Regions from separate parts of the Homo sapiens genome. Here region 2 is linked to region 1. Evidence: fine-mapped expression QTL. Tissue or cell type: whole blood. Region 1 holds a variant in brackets; the other region holds the start of a gene. All regions are shown on one strand. Distances are between the middles of the regions.

Evidence for each region. PIP is the estimated chance that this variant, and not a neighbour inherited with it, causes the effect.
Region 2: PRMT7 starts here. The variant in region 1 is fine-mapped to the expression of PRMT7 in whole blood (TOPMed, PIP above 0.99).

What each region holds. Positions count from the first base shown.
Region 1 is chr16:68,394,977-68,397,656 of GRCh38, forward strand. All of the region lies in intron 1 of SMPD3 (sphingomyelin phosphodiesterase 3), which reads right to left. Among named protein-coding and RNA genes, the nearest start is that of SMPD3, 52 kb to the right of the region's middle. The variant G/A (reference allele first, on the strand shown) is at 1,324.
Region 2 is chr16:68,309,748-68,312,427 of GRCh38, forward strand. PRMT7 (protein arginine methyltransferase 7) reads left to right here and starts at 1,272. Exons shown (of 19, transcript NM_019023.5): 1 at 1,272-1,352; 2 at 2,295-2,429. SLC7A6OS (solute carrier family 7 member 6 opposite strand) reads right to left here and starts at 1,199. Exons shown (of 5, transcript NM_032178.3): 1 at 988-1,199; 2 at 588-866. The coding sequence starts at 1,179. RefSeq lists an enhancer at 204-1,168.

The sequences.
Region 1 (2,680 bases):
TGCTTGAATGGCTGCAGTGCAGAAGAGGCCCCTGTGGCATCACTCCCTTGGCTAGCCCCCCTGGGTGGGAAATGCTTACATATATATATATCTTTCCTAAGGGGGCTGGAATTGGAAAAAAAAAAAAAAGAGGCAGGATTATAGGTGATAGTGTGGACTGGGGGCACATAAACAGTGTAACAGTGACCCCCAGCCTCATGGCTCACCTTCCAAAAGTCAGTATTGATTGAGCAACTAATTAGCTGTGTATTTCCTGTGCTCAGAATCAGAGATTTTCCCTTTGTTGGGTGGCAACTGTAATCTGGTCGAGAGGAAGGCTTTTCAGGGGCTCTCTGTTCCCACAGAACTCCAGAGTGGCCTCATTTCACACTTCTTGGGAACTAGTTTTTCGAGTGACAGATTGATTGGTGTATGGGTGGTTACCAAAAAAGATTCTATTTTATTAGCTGTTTGTCTTGCAGAGTGAAATAGTTTTTTTAAACTTTATCAAAACGTCATCATCTCCAGGGTTTAAAGCGTGCCCTCTGGCTTTGAGGGAAGATCTCAGTCCCATAGCCGTCATGTCCCAGTTCACCTCAAGCCATTGAGCAATGAGCCTGAGACGGGGCAGGTGAGCTCAGGCCTGTGGCCGCCCTAGCCTGGGCCCACTTAAGGGGTGACCCTGAGTGGCAGCTAGCTGAGCACCAAGGTGACAGACAGCTCTAAATTTCATCCCGGTGCCTAAACTGTCTTAAAAAAATACATCAAGGGAAAAGTAAAATCTAGACATTCCTATACATGAGAGACTATGTGTATAGGTAATGTTGCTTTTCTGTTTGAGAAGGAAATAGAAAACATTTCACTTACTCTTTTTTTTAAATTAAAAATGAGGAATATATCAAACAATAAAAAAGATCTTGGTTTCCTATTGTGGCAGTTAAAGAAGAGAGAAAAACAGACTGAAAGTTGTTGAGGGAAGGCAGGGAGCAGAGTCCTGTCCCAGGGGTGCCTCAACTCAGTGTGCCTGGCCTGGGCGGCCCAGCCCTGCCCTTCCAGCCTCAGCGGGTGTAGCCCCTAGTTGTCTACTCTGTCCTTGGCCCCTCCCTTAGCCCCAAGTGTCCTGTCCAGAGTCAAGGCCAATTACTCCTAGTTCTTGAGTCCATTTCTAGTCCCTACTCCCAACCCCTCCGTGGCTGTCACCGCCACCAGGGCCTCCTCCTGTCTTGCCTGCTTTGAGCCCCTTCCCTCCTAATTGGGCTGAAGCCTGTGATCCCCACCAGCAGCAGCTCTGAGCTCATTCTGCCCTTGTCCAGCATCTCCAGATCTCCCTCTACCCCCAGGATC[G/A]ATCCTTCTACCTGGCCTGGCTTGAGGACCCCAGTGACCAGGCCCTGCCCTCCTCAGTCTCGTTTCTGCCCCTCTTTCTCCCACTGATTTGATGTGATGGCCCCGACCTCTAGCTTTCACTGTTCCTGGGACATACCATGCTCTTTCACGCCTCCATGCCTTTGCACATGCTGTACCCTGTGTCTGGAACACCCTGGTGGTCCACCTGACACCCCTCCTCCAAGGCTCAGCTCTAAAGCTTCCAACCCCCTCCCCTCAGTCTCACACCCTGGGGCTTTGTACTGGCAGCGTAGAGCCCCCTGAGCTCCAAGCACAGGGCCCAGTCCCTGACAGGCATTCCAGGAACCTCGGTGGAATCAATAAAGTGATTTCTAGCCAGGCGGGCATGTCCATCACCAGAAGGTTCGATTCCCTTTGTACACACCAGGGGGCACAGCAGGAGCTGTGAGAAACTGCTCCCAATTGTTTGAATTATTGCCTCAATGAGGCTACTTTGTGGTAAAACAAAAGAAAACAAAACGAAAATGCAAGATGGAGACTTGAAATTTAAAAGCTGTGTGAACTCACGTGTGTGTTGTGAGTGCCTATAGCTTACTGGAATCATCATCTTCATCAACATGATTATATAAAAAATGTTTTGGGGTACCCACTGTGTGCCAGGCACTGTGTTCAGAGCATTCCCTGCACAACGTCTTGTTTCATCCCCTAAGCAGCCTGGGGAGGGTAGGTATTATTGATCCCGTACTCAGAGATGAAAACTGAGGCTTGGAGGGGCATAAGTGACTTGCTCAGTCACACAGCAGAGGGTGGCACAGATTCTGTGAGCAAGACTTATCTGCAGCCCCATCCTGGTTAGCATTTTGACCGATGGGGCTCTCTAATACACAGGAGGCACCCATAGGTAAGGGAGGAACACCCCAGGGGTTGGGAAGTCTTGCTAGCCACCACCCTTCCCTCTTACCTGCCTCCTCCTCTGTCCCAGAGGGATTCAAGGTGGATGCTGCCATGATTTGTTCTTAACACTGGAGTGTGAATTCATCCATCAACTGTTGTCCTGGATATCTGAATGGTCAGAGAGCTGGTGGGGATTGGGAGGTATAAACCCAGCAGGAACCAGGTAGAGTTCTGCTGTGGGGCTGAGGGATGATGGGGAACACCCCGGTCAAGCCCATTGTCTCTCCCTGGTGTCCTTCAGCCTTGCGCCCTCCATTTGTTCTCCATACAGAAGCCAGAGTGATCTTTCTAGGTACACACCTGGGTACCCTCCCCGCTGAGAACTCTTTCATGGCCCCCAGGATAAAATCCATGCCCCACATCTGCCTCCTCTCCTGTCGCACTTCTTGCCAATCCTGTCCTT
Region 2 (2,680 bases), 85 kb before region 1:
ATTTTGCTCCAGTGATCCCCATCTCAGTCAGGGTGAAAGGCAATGTCCTTGCAAGTACCTAGCAGGCATCCTCCCCTCAAATTCCTTACTGCTCTCCTCTAGCTCACCGGGCTCCAGGCACCTTGCAAGGAGCAAAGAAACGGCTTAAGGGCCTCTTTACTTTCAGGTTCTCTGCCTAGAAGTCCTCTCGATATGTGGAATACCCTGCCATTCACCTTCTGCAAGTCTTCACTCAAATGTCATTTCCTCAGTGACACTCTCACTGAAGTGGCACCACTCTTCCTGCTTTGTCTCCCCGCCTCCTTACATCCCTTATCATCATCTGACACTGAATAGACTTGTTTACTGTTTCTGTCTACCTGCATGTTAGGTCCTCACTGCTGTATCCACAGAATCTAAAAAAATACCTGGCATATCGTAGGCACGTAGTAAACACATGTTGGATGAACAACCAAATCTGTAAAATGAGGCCGTCACGCCGGATGGATCATCCATCCCCTTAAGATGAAACTGTGCTGCGACTGGGCCCAGTCTTCTTGCATTACCATCCTGAGAAGCCCAGCGACCACCTTCAGGGGCATACTCACTTTGCAGGAGCCTGCAGAGGCGGCTTCAGGTTCTCCCTCCTCGTGGACAAGGTCTAACAACTGAAAGCCCGAGTTCCCGGCGGCTTCTGGGTTCCCCGGCGTGTACTCGGACTCCTGGCCGCTCGAGGTGGTCCCCAAGGATCGGCGGCTGGAAAGCACCCGGTAGCGGCCCTCCTGCCGGACCTCCCGAGCCGAGGCGCGGAGATTACGGCGGACACGCTGCTGGCTGTCCCGTGACGGGCGCAGAACTTCCCGCAGGAGAGGCTGGACTGGTTCCTCCTAGGGGGCAACAGGGGACGGAGGCCAGCGTAAGCAGGAGTTCGCGAGCGGGTCAGGGATCGGGTTTCGTACCGGCTGCACCCGAAGATGCCCTCCACACCAGCTGCACCACGCCCAATACCTGGGAGCACACAGTGGCCACCAAGTGGAAGACATTATTCTCCGCCGCTCTCTCCAAACCCTCCGACGTCTTCTGTGCCGCTGACTCGACCGCGTCGCTCCGGAGGCGTTTACAAGCGAGCACAAGAGCCTCCGCCGGCTCCGCACTGCGCTTCCGCTTCACCCGGAGTACAGCGGTCCTGGCGGCCTCCATAGTGGCTGCCGCTGAGCACTGTGGGAGCTCGCGGGGTGTGATGGGATAGCTTTCCAGTTCTGCTTTAGGACCCGCCCCCCAGCACGCTCCTCGACGCTGCGAGGTCCCGCCCCGCGTGCTGGCCGCGGTAAAAGTGGTAGCAGCGGAGGCGAGCGGAGGGTTTCCCGCGGCGGGTGAGGCGCTGGGTATGCTGGGAAGGTGGGGTCGCTTTGGGGTTCTGTGTGCAGCGAGCATGGTGTCCTTGGCACCAGGGTTTCGGCAGAGGAGCCTAGCGTGGGCCTACTTGGACTCCTCCGCGTGGGGCAGCTCGGGACACCCGGGCCTGCAGGAGAGCGGGGTTCTAGGCTGGCCCCGGCTCTGCAGTGCAGCCGGGTGCCTGCCACTCGCGGGGCTCTGTCGCAGTACTCGTGCCTGGCGCCTCCCCTCAGCCACAGAGACCGCAGTAGCTCCAACCATCGCACCCCTAACTGGGCCACGAGTTCTCTGATTGCCAGACCTGTTGTCTTTGCCACTCACTGTTCTGAGTAATTGGAGAGTCGTGTATTCACTACACGCCAACCAGAGTGGTCCTGTAAAAGCGTAAGCCTAGTGTAGATACGCTTCTGCTTAAAACTCTTGAGTGGCTCCCAGTGCTTTTAGAACAAAATCCAAACGCCTTTCCGAAGTCGACAAGGCCCAGCTTGATTGAGCAGAAGATGTGATAGGAGATGAGGAGCGGGGGGCTTCTGCAAAAGTGCTTCGGTCGCTCAGGCTTTTGGCACATTTTGCTTATGCAACCTAGTTCTTTCTACCTTAGGGCCTTTTCTTGGGAAAGTTGGGGTAAGGATTCCTGACCTGTAAAAACTCTTCCCCAACTTTTATCCCGGTCTGTCTTGTAGATCTCAAATGCTAGTTTCCTCAGAGTCCTTCTGTAACCTTGGTTTTCTCTTTCTACAACGCTCTGTGTATTTCTTGCATTCATGTAGTCTGTAATTTGTATTACTCTCTCATTAGAGTCTAAGCTCTTGGAGGGCAAGGGTCTTCTCTAGCTTGTGGTGGTGGCTCCAGTCCCTAATATAGTGCCTGGCACATAGAAGGTATTTAATAAATTTTGTTATTTTATTTTTTCGAGACAGAGTCTCACTCTGCTGCCTAGGCTGAGTGCAGTGGTGTGATCGAGGCGCACTGCAGCCTTGACCTCCTGGGCTCAAGCGATCCTCACCTCGGCCTACCGAGTAGCTGGGACTACAGGCACGCGCCACTACACTCGGGTAATTTTTAATTTTAATATATGTATATTTATATATATATATATATATATATATTTTTTTTTTTAAGACAGGGTCTCACTCTGTCACCCAGGCTGGAGTTCAGTGGCGCCATCTCTGCTCACTGCAACCTCTGCCTCCCGGGCTCAAGTGATTCCCCTACCTCAGCCTCCCGAGTAGCTGGGAGTAACTGGGACTACAGGCACAGGCCACCGCGCCCGGCTAATTTTTTTAAAAATTTTTTGTAGAGAACG